Linked DNA regions of Homo sapiens: region 1 is linked to region 2. A link means that fine-mapping ties the variant in region 2 to the expression of a gene that starts in the linked region. Tissue or cell type: monocytes. Region 2 holds a variant in brackets; the other region holds the start of a gene. All regions are shown on one strand. Distances are from middle to middle.

Region 1 (8,184 bases), 51 kb before region 2:
CGCCAGTGTTTGTGGAAGTTGCAGTTTTGGTGTCAATGGTGGCAGCAGCAATGGATTCTCACTAGATCGTCTAGTGTGTTTGGGTACCGTTGTTTCCATATTTGGCCTCTGGCTCTCCTAGAGATTCTGTGAGCTACATGATTTTTTAAAAGTCCTTTTCTTTCTCAACCAGAGTGGATTCCGTTGCTTGTAACTAACTGCCTGACCTAATCAAGCTGAGATCTGAAAGATGAGTCAGTCGTGGGAAGAGCTGTCAGGGTGGATCAGTAATCTGAGCAGAGGGCACTGAAGAGTGTTGGCTCAAGGAACTGAGAAGAGGATAGTGTGGTGGGAATTTGGTAGAAATCAGGAGAATGATAGTTGATGAGGTTAGAGAGGGAGGCACAGGGTTTAGAACCTGAGGGCTCAGGCCATGGTGAGAAGTTTATGGTTTATGTAAAGTATAATGAAAGTTAACATATGATGGGCAGAGGATGCATGATCTGATTAATGTTTTGCCTCTTAATGTGGAGCACAGATTAGAAGGGGGACAAGAGAGAACATGGGAAGAGTATTAAGGTTAAATCGTATTGAAATTGCATTTCATGTCTGTTCCCTTATGAGACCACTGAAGCCGAGAACCATGTCTAATTCAAAAGTGCACAGCAGGTGCTCAGTGTATTAAAATGAATGAATACACTAATGCACTGAATTTTTGTAACAACTCTGATAGGCAAGTCTTCTGCCCATTCCATAGATGAAAAATCTGGTAAAGAGATCCAAGCATTAGGCACTGTCCTAAGAATGTTACATATATTAACATATTAATCTTAGAACAACCTCATGAGGTATATGCTGTATTATCCCCACTTTACAGATGAAACAACTGAGGCACAGAGAGTTTATGTAATAAGCTCTAGGTTACTCAGCTAATAAGTGGTAGTGCTAGGATCTGAATCCAGGCAGTCTGGCCTCACAGGCTCCACTCTTAACCACTACACAGACTGCCTCATATGGATACTGATGAATTCTAAACACACACACACACATATATATAAAGATACACCTTTAAATGAGTTAGAAGAGTAACTACTATTCATAGAATAAAAATCAAATATAACTTTCAAACCACTAAAGCGGGAAAAAAACTGGAAAAAAAGACTGTCAAACCAAAGGCAGTAAAGAGAACAGGAAGCATGATACATAGAAAAAAATGAGTGAGATATATCTATGAATAAGTTAAGTGTTAGTATTAACAGGGAGAAATCTCAAATGAGGGGGACATGTACATGCTTTTAAAAAACATACCGAAAACAAAATAGAGTTAATAACTGCATTAGCTTTATAGTCAGAGAAACTCTTGCACACGTGTACCAGGAAACATGTACAAGAAAATTTACTGTCAGCAGTTGGTAACAGCAAAAAAAAAACCAAACAACAAAACAAAAAAACTGGGGCAAAAAAATAACCTGTGTTGGCATGGAATGGAGCAACAGCAGCTCTCCTACATTGCTGATGGAGGGTAAGTTAGTACAACCACTGGAGAACAATTTGGCAATATCAAAGTTGAACTGTGCAAACCCTTCCACCTTGCAATTCCATTTCTAGACATTATCCTAAGGAAATTCTTACCATATGTCTAAGAAGCTGTGTGCAAGAACTAACTCATGTTATAATGACAGAAATCAGGAATCATGAAATTGCTAGCAACTGGAGAATGGATAAATGGTGGTACAATTATACAATGGAATACTATTCAGCAGTTAAAATAAAACTAGAACTACAGGAATCATCCTGGATAAATTTTACATACATAATTATAGGTGGCAAAAGTAAGTGACATGCATATCATTTATATTAGGTTTAAAAAGCATAAAACAGTACTTTATGCTACTTAACATCGCTACATGTATTTGGAGCATACATAAAAGCTTTCATGGGAATGACAGATACCAAATTCAATGAAGTAGTTAATTTCAGAGAGGAAGAGAGGGAGAATGAGATTGCAGGCAGTTTCACAAGGAGCTCTAACTGAATGTTAAAATCTGAAGCAAATAAGAGAAAATGTTAAAATGGGATAAAGCTAGATGGTTGGTATACAAGTGTTCATTATATTATTTTCTGTAACTGTACATTCTGGTAATATTTCATATTAAACATTTTAAAGGAAAGTTAAGCTTCCAAGATTCTATAAAAAGAACAAAATAAACCCAAAGAGATAAGAAGAAATTAATGAAGGCATACATTAATGAAAGAGAAATTACTTTTAAGACAGATTTTATCTATAAAACCAAAAGCTGGTTTGATAAATATGATCAAGAAAAAGACTCCAATACAATATATAAGAATATATATATAAGAATATATAAGAATGGTTGAGAACAATATGAGATTTTTTTAAATGTTAGAAAATATAGCTGAAATACTTTTTTTTTAAAGATGGAGTCTCGCTCTGTCCCCCAGGCTGGAGTGCAGTAGCAAAATCTCAGCTCACTGCAAGCTCCGCCTCCCGGGTTCAAGCCATTCTCCTGCTTCAGCCTCCTGAGTAGCTGGGACTACAGGCGCCCGCCACCATGCCCGGCTAATTTTTCATTGTCGTATTTTTAGTAGAGACGGAGTTTCACCGTGTTAGCCAGGATGGTCTCGATCTCCTGACCTCGTGATCCGCCCTCCTCGGCCTCCCAATGTGCTGGGATCACAGGCGTGAGTCACCGCACCCGGCCAATACTTTTCTAGAAAAAACTAATTTTCTCAAGAAGCAAAAGAAAAAATTCTAGGTATCAATAACGATGGACGCTATATAAAAAACAAAACTATCCATTAAGATGGCACCACACCCAGAAGGCTTTAAAGATGAGTTCTTCAAAACCTAAGAAATGTATCATTCACACATGCTATGTCTATTCCAGGTCATACAAAAATAAGTTAACCTGTCTGACTCCTAGCACAACCTGATACCAAAACTAGACAAGGACAGCAAAAGAAAACCATAAGCCAATCTAACTTAGGTGCATACATGAAAATCCAAAATTAACTACACAGCAAATTGCATCCAGCAATATATTGAAAAAATAAGATACCAGGATTCTAAGTTTGGCTCACCATTAGAAAATCTATTATTGTAGTTATTTTATTGTAGAGTAATGGAAAAAAGGCCATACAATCATCTCAAAGACTGATACTGAAAATACTTGGTAAAACTTAGTCATTTGCTGATTAAAAAAAAAACCGATATGGTAAACTACGAAAAGAACATAATTTGCCTATACACCCACACACACACACACCATAAACCTGCAGAAGATATCTTGAATGAAACCTAAGATGCAATCCAAAATAACTCCTGGTAAGAAATAAGTACCTCCGGCTACTATTCAGTGTTGCACTGGATTCTTGGGAAAAGCCAAAATTGTTCTTTACAGATAAATTCTTACCTACAAATCAAAGAGGACTGCCTGTCAAATTTTTAGAATACGAACGTTTAGTGAAGTGTCCAGATAGATCAACAATCAAAAGCCATTCTTATACAAGGATACTAATGGATTAATAGTCTATTAGTAAAAACAAACTACAATAACAAAAATAGCTATGAAAAAATGTTAAATGCGCACAACACCAAGCGAACTGCAACGCTTTACCTGAAAAACAAAGGGAGAACTGAATTAATTTAAAAAAATAGCCACATTGCTGGACGGGAATTCTCAATATTGTACTAGTATCCAATCTCGGCAAATCTACAAAAATATGGAATCCCAAACAAATCCCTGGAAATCTTTGCCATTTGGGCGCCAATCTACTAAAGAAATCGGCCCCAGGGTGTGAGGTTTCTCACATGTGCGTGAAAACGCTTCGAGAGGGGTGCAGCCGCGGACACAAAAACCGTGGCTTGAGTCCCCGCGCCCCTCCCCTCCCCTCCCCTCCCTCCCTCCAGTCCAGCAGCTCTTGCCTAAGGCTCCCGCGACCGGAAGAGTCGCTTCCGCTCCCGCCCCGCTCTGTGGCGTAGGCCGGACATTTCTAGTCGACTGTTGCGCGTGCGCGCGCTGTGACGTTCCCTACGCGGTCGGGCGTTGGGTTTCGCGGCGCTCGCCGCACTGGTTGTTCAGCACCTTCGGTCCGGTTGAGGTTGTCAAGTCGGACCAAACAGGTTGTTTCTCTGCAGTTTCCAGTAAGTGACCGTTCCAGCCGGGGCTGTGGCTAGAGTGTGAAGGCAAACCGGTAGAAGCCGCGCCGCCATTTTCTTCCCACCTCACTCTTTCCTCAATCTCCCTTCGGTCACTCCGAGGGGACTGTTGGTAGCCCCCCTCTGCCCGGTCCCCCGCTAATGAGGCCGCTCCCAAGCTCTGAGTTTCCCCAAAAGATGTGTCCTTTGTCATGAAAGCTCTCGTAGTATTTAAGTGCTAATACTCGACGGCCGCCGACTTCTCAGATGCACCCTGGAGGGTGTGCTCTTGGCCTGACACTTATTAGCCCTTCCGCTTCCTACAGTTGTGATGGGCCCTCAGATACTCACCAGGAAAATGTGATGCCCGCACCACCACTTCTTACTCCAACTTTCTTTGTAATTATGTCCTCTGTTTCAGAATCCTACTGCCGCGGAACAAAAATGTACCAAGGACCATTCCACTTAACGTCCCTCCCTTCCTTCTCAAACCCTTAAGAGTGCCTTAAGAGTAAGGTACTGACCTAAGTGCTTTACATGCATTTTATTTAATCTTCCCACGCAGTCCTTAAGTAGGCAGACATGAGAAAATTGAGGCACAGAAAAGTTTAATAATTTGCTCAAGGCAACATAGGTTGGATGTGGTAGGGCTGAAATTTGGATTTATTGTGTAGCTTACTCAATCTGGTGTTGTTATCATTCATTCCTTTCTCTTTCCCAAATACTGAGTATTCCTTTTTTTCTTAGTTGCTTCTACAGAGGAATTTTTTTCCTTAATGCTGTTTAGAGGGTTCTTCTTGAGAAATTTGGGTTCTGTCTGAAAACCCTTTTCTCAGAGCTCTCCTTACACAGACGCTTAAGTGTTGTTTTTCCAAATCTAAGCTCTAAACTTAATAATATTTTGCATATCCAAAATGTGCTCATGCTTCCTTAAAAAAGTACCCCTAAACCAGTACCCACCAACCAGCCCCCTTCCTCTACCTCAATATGACAATGGTTATCACTATTCTCAGCAAACATTTGGGCAGCTAGCTTATGTAAGACAATAAAGGTAATTGGGGTTTTGAAGAACTCTGAGGTTTAGTTCCGACCTGAAGGAGAAACATGAAAAGGCCTTCATAAAAAGGCCACATAAAATAGCAGATAAATCCCATCTCAGTTGCACAGAATACAAATTGTATAAGAGCAACTTTGGACAAATCAGGTAAAAGTGCTAGATGTGTTTACTCATCTGTAAAATGTTAAGGTTAGGCTAGGTCACTAAAATATTATAAATCTAATTTCAGAGAGAGGAGTGATAACTCTGTACTCACTATTGAGGGAGGTGGAGGCTGTAGTTTGTTTTTAGTGTTTTTTTTTGTTTTTTTGTTTGTTTGTTTTTGAGACAGGGTCTCACTCTGTCGCCCAGGCTGGAGTGCAGTGGCGTGATCAGAGCTCACTGCAGCCTCCACCTCAGCCTCCTGAGTATCTGGGACTACAGGTGTGCACCACCATGCCCGGCTAATTTTTGTATTTTTTGTAGAGACAGGGTCTCACTATGTTGCCCAGGCTGGTCTTGAACTCCTGGCTTCAAGCAGTCCTCCCACCTTGGCCTCCCAAAGTGCTGGGATTACAGGTATGAGCCACTGCACCCCACCTGTAGTGTGTTCTCGATACAGAGACAAGGTTGAAGGATTCAGAGTACAATTTTCTCATTTTGAATATCTGATAAAATCTGTAGACCCTCCATCAACAGAGGATTGGGTAAAGAAAATGTGGTGGTGTGTGTGTGTGTGTGTGTGTGTGTGTGTATGCCATGGAATACTATTTAGCCATTAAAAAGTCATGTTTTTTCAGCAACATGGATAGAACTGGAAGCCATTATCCTAACCGAAATAACTCAGAAAGCCAAATATCACATGTTCTCACTTAAAGCAGGAGCTGAGAAGTGATGGGTACACGTACATATAGACACTGCAGACTACAAAAGGTGGGAGGATGGGAGGGGGGTGAGGGTTGAAAAGTTACATACTGGGAACAATGCTCACAATTTTGGTAATGGGTACACTAAAAGCCCAGGCTTCACCACTGTGCAATATGTACATCTAAGAATTCTGCACTCGTACCCTCTAAATATATAAAAATTATGTTTTTCTGAGACAGTCTTGCTTTGTCACCCAGGCTGGTGCAATCTTGGCTCACTGCAACATCTGCCTCCTGGGTTCAAGTGATTCTCATGCTTCAGCCTCCCGAGTAGCTGGGACTATAGGTGTGCACCATCACACCTGACTAATTTTTGTAACTTTAGTAGATATGGGTTTTGCTACGTTGGCCTGGGTGGTCTCAAACTCCTGGCCTAAGCAATCAACCCACCCCGGCCTTCCCAAGTGCTAGGATTATAGGTGTGAGCCATGAGACCCAGCCTAAAAATAAATTTTTTAAAAAAGCTGTAGATCTTGCTCTGGAAATAAAATTCACATCCATACAACATTTTATGCTTAATTTTAGGAGATTTGTTGACTACTCCTTCTCAAATTTAAATGTTAAAAACCCTTGATTTAGGGAAAAAGTATTATTCAGAACACCAGAACTAAGCCAGATGTGGAAGGCCTTTATCTTGTGGGCAGTGTTGAACCATTTGAGGTCTAAAAAGATAAATCTGGTAGCAGTATGAAAAATGCATGACAGTGGGAAAAAGCAACGAGACTAGTTAAGTGGCAGGGGAATCATTTAGGTAGGAGACTGTGCCAAGCAGTATTGGGAATGAAGAGAAATCAGAAGAAGTATTGACAAGGACAAATCAAATATCTGACTGGATATGGAATTGAAAGAGGAAATCAATGATAACAAGGTTCGAGGATCAGTTATGCTGCAGGTCTACCTTGTCTTCAGTATTTTATTGAAGTCATTCCTATAACATCTGTGCTAGTGCTTGCTTCAGTAGCACATATACTAAAATTGGAATGATACAGAGAAGATCAGCAAATAAAAATTTAAGTACAAATTTAAAAAAGAAACAAACATACGTGCTCTAAGAGCACTCCCAACCCAACAGACATTAAAAAGGATGAGGTAATACACGAACACCTCTGTACTTATAAATTTGATAATGTGAGAGAAATGGGCCACTATCAAAATTACCAAAACTCACCCAGGACAAAATAGGTAAATGAAATAGTCCTATAAGTATTAAAGAAATAGAATTTGTGAGAAAAACGAACAAACAAAACGACAACCAAAAAACAAACCCTGGCAAGAGTCTTCTTGCCAGGAAGAAAAAAAAAGAATAATAACTTTAAAAAAAAAGAAAGCTCCAGGCCGAGATAATTTCACTGGCAAATTTCACCAAACATTCAAGGATGAAAAAATAACAGTTCTCTTACAAGCTCTTTGGATCGTAGAAAAGGAAGAAACACTTAACTCATTTTATGAAGGCAGCATTTTCTGGATACCAAAACCAGATAAAGACAATACAAAAAACAAATCTAAAAGTTAAAATCCCTCATGAACAAAGATACAACTTCCTCAAAAAATAATAGCAAATTGAATTCAGCAGTATATTAGAAAAATAGTACATTGTGACGAAGTCTCATCCCAGGAATTCAATATTTGAACATCATATAATCCTCCATATTAACAGACTAAATAAGAAAAACTACATGATGCTATTAATAGATGCAGAAAAACACTTAAGAAGATTCAGCATTCATTCATTATTCTTAAAACTCAGCAAACAAGTAATAGAAGAGAACCTAATAAAAGTCATCGACAAAACCCATAGCTATTGTTATATTTAATGGTGAAAGACTGAATGCTCTCTACCCTCCAAGATTGGGAACTAGGCAAGGATGTCTCTTCCACTACTGTTTAATATTTTACTGGAAATCCTAGCAATTATAGTAAGTCAAGAAAATGGGAGAAAAAGCATTCTGATTGGAAAAGAAGAAATAAAATTATATTTGCAGATGACAATTATATAGTAAGTCTCAAGAAGTCTATTTAAAAAGCTGGTAGAGCTAACAAATTTAGCAGGTTACAGGATACAAGCTTAACATACATAATCCTAT
Region 2 (8,184 bases):
ATAATTGATAGGCTGGGATTTGCCACCCAACTGACCAACTATTACAAGGATTTGGATAATTATAAATTACTTTTCTTCCTTTAAAATCTCCAGCACAGGCTGGGCCCAGTGGCACACGCCTGTAATCCCATCACTTTAGGAGGCTGAGGTGGGTGGATCACTTGAGGTCAGGAGTTCAAGACCAGCCTGGCTAACATGGTGAAACCCTGTCTCTACTAAAAATACAGAAATTACTGGGTATGGTGGTGCATGCTTGTAATTCCAGCTACTCGGGAGGCTGAGGCGTGAGAATCGCTTGAACCTGGGAGGTGGAGGTTGCAGTGAGTCTAGATGGCACCACTGCCATCCTGGGCAGCCTAGGTGACAGAGCAAGACTCCATCTCAGAAAAAAAAAAGAAAGAAAGAAAATCTCCAGCATATAACAATTGTGGATAATGTCAGGGCTGAATCAGTGGATGTCATCTAATAATAATAATAATAATAATAATAATAATAATAATAATAATAAAGCTTTTAATTTCTCAGTGCTTAGTATTGACCTGCTTCTTCTCCAGAATTCTTCATATTAGTAGATTTACAACCCAAGCCTGATCTGGGGATCATTCTTGATTATTCTCTCTCACCATTCCCCTGCCATTACTACCACACATGCATTTTTAGTGACAGTTATTATAGGTTTGGTCTCTTGAAAGCTCTTGTTTTTCTTTTTAGCTTACAAAGACTAAAAAGTGAATCTTCAAATTCCCAGCCTCCCTTACAGCTAGTAATAGCCATTTAGCACAATTTCTGGCCCCAGTGATACAAGGTAAAATTCTTGTAATCTTAGAAACATTATTCTTTTTTTTGAGACGGAGTCTTGTTCTGTCACCCAGGCTGGAATGCAATGGCACGATAGTGGCTCACTGTGACCTCTGCTGCCTGAGTTCAAGCGATTCTCCTGCCTCAGCCTCCCAAGTAGCTGGGATTACAGGCACCTGCCACAATGCCCAGCTAATTTTTGTATTTTTAGTAGAGACGGGGTTTCACCATCTTGGCCAGGCTGGTCTTGAACTCCTGACCTCCTGATCCACCTGCCCTCTGCCTCCCAAAGTGCAGGGATTACAGGCATGAACCACTGCATAGAAACATAATTCTAAGATGAGAGTTAAATAGGTTCAAATTAGAATACAATAGATTGGGGGCATGTGCCCAAGTTTCATTTAACTCAGTGAGGGAACCAGTAGGATGAAAAAGTTAGTTGAAATGATAATATTAAAGACTTGGTTATTGTTTTTTATAATGAATGGGGGAAAAAGGAATGCTGAGATAAGATTGCTAAATTAGATACAAAACTAGTCAGTTCTATAGGGCAATGAAAGTATAATCTTTAAAATTACCCTTTCTACTGGTCAGAAAAGAGAATTGTCACACTTCATCCATTTTATTTGTTAGCCTCTAGCTATAAAATTGTTTGTTATGTAGATATGTGAGCTCCAAGCCATAGTGAATACAGTGTGCAACAAAATTACTTTCCCTGGAGAATTAGATGACTGTTAGGCAGCCTTTTTAAACAGTGCCCTAACATGACATTAAAAGGTCATGCAGCTATCGCTTAACCTTATTTCCAAGTTTTGAATGTTCTCCTTGATAGCTGCAATAATGAATAACTCTGAACTTTACTCAGAGTTAAAGCTTTTTCCCTTCCTAGCATTAGTCTGGCTACCTGCAATGGCAGAGAGCTCTTCTTTCCTCTTGCACTAGACCAGAATAAAGGGGTACAAAAACAAAACCTCCCTTCACTCTCTGCCAAGCTGTGGTTGGGGTCTAGCAATCTAGGCAGCAGAATTAACAGCAGAATTAACAGCAGGATGGCATCAGATACTACTGGATAATGTTAACTATGCTGAAGAACAAATATGCTTATATGCTAAATACCAGACTGTAATGTTGTGGTGATTTCTGGGAAAAAGGAAAACTATAATAAAGTGAGAATAAATAAAATGAAAAAAATTTTTAAGAGAAAAAAGGATAAAGATACAATAGGAATTAACATTTAATATGTGCAAAGTATTGTATCCCATTATAAACTGTTGTACCTCCCTAAAATATGTGGCCAGTTGTACAATCTAAGATAACTCTAAAATATTACTTGGTAATTGGAATTGGATTTTATTTTTGTGAATTAAAAACTCACTAATGAGCCTCACCCTCACAAAATTTCCACAAAACTAAGTACTTGGTTGATTTGAAATAATTTAAGGTTAAAAGTTGCTAAACATTCCAACCTTCAAAATAAGTATTCAAAATTTGCAAATCCAAGAAATTTACTGTCAGTTATTTTCATTTCCACTCAGTCTTTATAAATCCTTGTTTGTGTTTTTTCCACATAGAATAACCTCTTACCATTTGAAATTTAGATTGTTATAGTTGAAGTTTATTTTTCTCCCCATTTTTTAGGCCACAGGAAATGGAGTCTGAAATAAAGCCACTGTATCTAAAACATTTATTTAATGGTAAAACTTGATGATTAATAGTATTATTAGCGTTTTAAAGACTATATGTTTAGAGTTTGAAGTAAAGCTCCAGTGTTAATTTAACTTACTTTTCAAGGCTTAACGTGTTCTCATCTAAAAACAATGATGTCCAAAATTTCTGTTTTCTACTGTAAGTATTATGTATAATAAAATAGGTAGTAAATCTATTCTAATGTGTTCTACTTATTGTCTGCAGAGGGACTGAAACTGGGCTGACCCTTTTGATTTCCAAGCTCAGCGTTTTGGTGTAAGGCGGCCAAAGAAGGATGCGGAGCCCAGCACTGTGAAGCCTACAAAAACATTGATGCGCTGGCTTGGGGATTTGAATTTGAACATCTTTCACACTAAGTTCAGACTCATGAAACCAATCTTCAGATGCTCTGTAAACCACATAATAAAGAGTTTGGAAATTATATTTTGTTTTTGAAGGCCCACGTGCAAAACTTGAGAGCCTCAAGTCCAAGCCAGTTGTGGCAATTCTAGCCTACTTTTTTTTTATATTCAAGTGTGTTGTAGGGAAGGAGGAGAATAAGTCTGCTTTCTTGAATATTATGCCTAATTAATTACGTATAAAATACTTTTACCAAAGTTCTATGCAAGGTAGAAGACTTACAGATGGCATGAAAAAGATAAAGTCTTTTCCATGTTTTTTTTTTTTTTTTTTTTTTTTTTTGAGACAGAGTTTCACTCTGGTCGCCCAGGCTGGAGTGCAGTGGGCCAGTGTCGCCTCACGGCAACCTCCGCCTCCCAGGTTCAAGTGCTTCTCCTGCCTCAGCCTCCTGAGTATCTGGGACTACAGGTCCATGCCACCACACCCAGCTGATTTTGTATTTCTAGTAGAGACATGGTTTCGCTATTTTGTCCAGGCTGCTCTCGAACTCCTGACCTCAGGTTATCTGTTCCCCACGGCATCCCAAAGTGCTGGGATTACAGGCGTGAACTACCGTGCTTGGCCTCTGTGTACTTCTTTTTTGTTGTTATTGTTTTTGAGATGGAGTTTCACTCTTGTCATACAGGCTGGAGTGCAGTGGCGCCATCTCAGCTCACTGCAACCTCTGTCTCCTGGGTTCAAGCGATTCTCATGCCTCAGCCTCCCAAGTAGCTGGGATTACAGGTGTGCACCACCACGCCCAGCTAATTTTTGTATTTTTAGTAAAGACAGGGTTTCACCATGTTGGCCAGGCTGGTCTCGAACTCCTAACCTCAGGTGATCTACCCACTTCAGTCTCCCAAAGCGCTGGGATTACAGGTGTGAGCCACCGTACCTGGCCCATGTACTTCTTACTTAGTTTTTCTTCCCGCGTCTTATGTTTACATTTGCAATTATGTCTTCTTCTTTCAACAAATATTACAGGTTTTCATAATCTCAAATATTTGTTTTTAGAGCATGATGTAATGTTCCTTTGCATTAGGTACACTGATTGTGGGTTTCCAACAAAAAGTTTTCAGGTCTAAAAATGATCACATCATGCAGTATACCCAGGAATCAAACCTGCACATCTATCCCCTAAGTCTAAAAATGAAAGTTGAAAAAAATAAAAATTATATAAGAAAAAAATTATCACAGTGTTTTATAAAATAAGAAAGCAGACCACGCGTGGTGACTGAGGCTTGTAATCCCAGCACTTTAGGAGGCCAAGGCAGGCGGATTGCTTTAGCTCAGGAGTTTGAGGCCAGCCTGGCCGAAATGGTGAAACTCTGTCTCTACAAACACACACACACACACACGGTGAAACTCTGTCTCTACA[A/AAC]ACACACACACACACACACACACACACACACAAATTTAGCCAGGCATGGTGGCACATGCCTGTAGTCCCAGCTACTCGGGAGGCTGAGGTGGGAGGATTGCTTGAGCTTGGGAGGCAGAGGCTGCGGTGAGCGAAGATCACACCACTGCACTCCAGCCTGGGCGCCAGAGCAAGACTCTGTCTACAAAAAACAACAAACAGAAACAGCAATTTGCCAGGTAAGCCTTTTATGTTGCCTTTGATAGTTTTATAGATCCTTGGGATTTTTGCTCACTTAGGTTTATGATTGAATGTGTATCCCATCTAACTGTGTACTTGATATTTGCTTTTAAAACAAACTCCTGTTAGAAGTAAATGTTGAAAGAGAGGGCTAGGTTGTTTTTTTTATATTCATTCAGTCATTGATTCATTTATTTATTTATTCAGGGTCTTGGCTGTGTTACCTAGGCTGGAGTGTGAGAGTATGATCATGGCTCACTGCAGCCTAGACCTCTTGGATTCAAATGATGCTCCCACTTCAGCCTCCCAAGTAGCTGGGACCACAGGTGCACACCACCATGTCCAGCTAATTTTTAGATTTTTTTGTAGAGACATGGTCTTTCTGTGTTGCCCCGGCTGGTCTCGTACTCCTGGCTTCAAGCAATGGCCCCACCTTGGCCTCCCAAAATGAAGATTACAAGTGTGAGCCACTGTGCCTAATTGATTTTTTTATTGGAAATTTTGATACTGTTACGTTGTCACTGAGGCAGACAACTTAAAAATAATCTTGAGTATCATTCTGTGCCGATGTTAGAATTTAATATGCTGTTCGTAGGCCAGGCTCAGTAGCTCACGCCTGTAATCTCAGCACTTTGGGACGCCAAAAGCAGGAGGATCTCTTGAGCCCCCAGGAGTTTGAGACAAGCCTGGGCAGCATAAAGAGACCCCCATCTCTAAAAAAAAAAAAATAGAAAAATTAGCCAGACATGATGATGCCAACCTGTAGTCCTGGCTACTTGGGAAGCTGAGGTAGGAGGATCGCTTGAGCCCAGGAATTTGAGGCTGCAGTGAACTATGATTACACCACTGTACTCCAGCCAGGGTGACAGAGCAAGACCCTATCTCTAAAACTATTTTTAAAAATAAAACAATATGTTGTTCATATTATCCTAATGTAGTGTTTTACTGAATAGAATTCCTTAAAGGATTCTTTTCCCCAAGGATATTAACTCAAGGTAAATTATAATAGGATTGCAGATAAATTAAGCATCTTTATCTTTGATTACAGAGATATTTAGCATATGACTATAGATAATTTCCCCTTCATATTTTCTTGGGCTTCTAGTATTTATGTATCAAGAAAATTATTTCCTTATGTTTGAAATGGTGACATTTCTGAAATGTACCAGCAGAGGATACAGGGATTTTTGTTTGTTTTTCATTTTCTTATTTACTGAAGAAATAAAGGCATTTTAGTTTATAAATGGACTGTTTCTTTTTTCCAGGAAAACTAATATTCATAATTATGGGAAAACCGTGGTCTCTTCAAAAGGGCATAATAAAATGTAGATATTAGACATTATTTCAAATCGTTTTTTGTTATTTGTAGATTAATTAAAACAGTAACCATACCTCTGGAAGACAGAATAACAGAAGTAGTTTGACTAAATGGAGTTTGAAGTAGTGCATTACTTCTCTGGATTTGTTCTTAATTTCAAGCTTGTATTTATCCATATGAATAGTACTTTTGATGGATCAAATTATGAATAAAACTCTCACTTTCGAGAGGTATAATGCTTTCTGGGATAAAAGTTAAATCTACTGAAAGAATCATGTAAACAAAATCAAAAGCAAGAGGTAATTTAATGGAGAAGAATTTTAAAAAGATTTAAAATATGTTCTGGTGGAAAACACTGTGGACCACAGTAAGGAGACCTGCGTTCTCATGCCAATTTGTTCCTCCCAAGCTGTTTTCCTCTCCATTTTCTTCATCAGCTGAGCTTCCTGATACCAGGAAGCTGATGAAGCTTAAGCTTCAGGGCCCCTGCCAAGGCCCTGGGAGGGTCCCTAGCATGGGGCTTACATGGTCATATGCTTTTGTAACACCAAGGTGCAGGGCCAGAGGTCTTACCACAATGTGAATCTGTCCTAGGTTGCCTGGCATTGGAAGTTAAATGGGTATTAGAGGAGAAACAGGGTTTGAAATGTATAGAGCTGGCCGGGCGCAGTGGCTCATGCCTGTAAACCCAGCACTTTGGGAGGCAGAGGCAGGCAGATCACTTGAGGTCAGCAATTCAAGACCAGCCTGGCCAACATGGTGAAACCCTGTCTCTACTAAAAATACAAAAATTAGCCAGGCATGGTGGTGTGCGCCTGTAGTCCTGGCTACTTGGGAAGCTGAGATAGGAGAATTGCTTGAACCTGAGAGGTGGAGGTTGCAGTGAGCCGAGATCATGCCACTGCCCTGCAGCCTGGGTGACAGAGTGAGACCCTGTCTCAAAAAAAAAAAAAAAAAAGTAAAAGTACCTAGTAGAACGTAATCTGTAGAAAATGTCAAATAATCAGATACGAAAAATTGGAAAAATTGTTAGCAGAGGATTTGGGTCTCATCAATACCTAGCACAACCCTGCAGCAGTAATACAAATAGTGTACCTACATAGCTGTGTAAAGACATACTTGTGAATTTTGTATCCTATAATTAAAAAAAAATTATCAACTATGCCAGAGGAAGGACTGAATTTATATATATATAAAAAAAGATATTACAAAGTCATACAGTGAAGTGACAAAGAGTATGCATCCAAAAAAGTTGGAAAAAATAATATATAGATATGTCAAGCAGTTAATAAAAATAGAATGTTATTTTTCTGGATTTTGTTATATTTCTGCTGTGTCAAGTAAAATTTATAATTTGTAATTTCTGTTACCATTGCACATAAATATTCACATTTAAAAGTACCTGACTTTGGCTGGGCGCGGTGGCTCACGCCTGTAATCCCAGCACTTTGGGAGGCTGAGGCGGGTGGATCACGAGGTCAGGAGATGGAGACCATCCTGGCTAACACAGTGAAACCCCGTCTCTACTAAAAATACAAAAAAATTAGCCGGGCGTTGTGGCGGCTGCCTGTAGTCCCAGCTACTTGGGAGGCTGAGGCAGGAGAATGGCGTGAACCCAAGAGGCAGAGCTTGCAGTGAGCCAAGATTGCGCCACTGCACTCCAGCCTGGGCGACAGAACGAGACTCCGTCTCAAAAAAAAAAAAAAAAAAGTACCTGACTTTGTATTCTTTTTTCTTAGTGGGTCCTTCAAATTGTATAAGCTTTAGGCCCCACAAAACCTAGTATTACCCAGCTTGTTGTATAATGAAGAGGTTAAATTATATTCAGGGATTAAAATGAAGTAAGAAGTCATGAAAATGATTTCATTCCTGAAATATCAATATAGATAATTCCATCATGTTTGGGTGAAATATCTATAAAACTAACACACTTTTAATAATTCTGACTTTCTGCTGTGATAATTCCAGTGGGTTGTTATGCTAACAGTCTCTCTTTTCTATGCCTCATCAAAGACCTCTTCTAAAGGAGGGGATAAAGGAGGGAGAAAACCCTATCCTTTCACGTGGAAAAGTCGTATTACCCCCTAAGCTTTAGTTTCTTCCTCTAAAAAATAAAGTTAGAAACCTCTCCCTGAGATCTGAAATATCACGGTTGAATTTCTGATGTTCCTGGATCCAAATGCCTAGTTTTTAGTTAAAGATAAAACTCAAATTGATAATATTTCCTTGTTAGCATAGGTACAAATTCTATGGAGACATTGATTAAAATACAAGACTAGCCAGGTAAAGCGGCTCATGGTTGTAATCCTAGCTCTTTGGGAGGCTGAGGTGGGAGGGTCACTTGAGGCCAGGAGTTCATGACAAGCCCGGGCAACATAGTGCAACC

Which allele goes with the higher level. Alleles are on the strand shown, and positions count from the first base shown. SD is a standard deviation of normalised expression in the study named.
With allele A in place of AAC in region 2, the expression in monocytes of the gene that starts at base 3,974 in region 1 is lower (moderate effect, 0.54 SD a copy in Fairfax 2014).

The links. PIP is the estimated chance that this variant, and not a neighbour inherited with it, causes the effect. A credible set is the group of variants that fine-mapping cannot tell apart.
Region 1: LINC00467 starts here. The variant in region 2 is the best candidate, but not a certain one, in a credible set for the expression of LINC00467 in monocytes (Fairfax 2014, PIP 0.58).

The regions. Positions count from the first base shown.
Region 1 is chr1:211,378,782-211,386,965 of GRCh38, forward strand. It overlaps LINC00467 (long intergenic non-protein coding RNA 467), which reads left to right and starts at 3,974. Exons shown (of 6, transcript NR_026761.2): 1 at 3,974-4,144. LOC124904504 (a long non-coding RNA gene) reads right to left here and starts at 3,963. Exons shown (of 2, transcript XR_007066868.1): 1 at 3,812-3,963; 2 at 1-3,617. LOC107985259 (a long non-coding RNA gene) reads right to left here and starts at 5,503. Exons shown (of 2, transcript XR_001738447.1): 1 at 4,490-5,503; 2 at 4,045-4,173. RefSeq lists an enhancer at 4,087-4,156.
Region 2 is chr1:211,429,610-211,437,793 of GRCh38, forward strand. It overlaps LINC00467 (long intergenic non-protein coding RNA 467), which reads left to right. Exons shown (of 6, transcript NR_026761.2): 6 at 2,710-2,926. Among named protein-coding and RNA genes, the nearest start is that of LINC00467, 51 kb to the left of the region's middle. The variant A/AAC (reference allele first, on the strand shown) is at 4,262.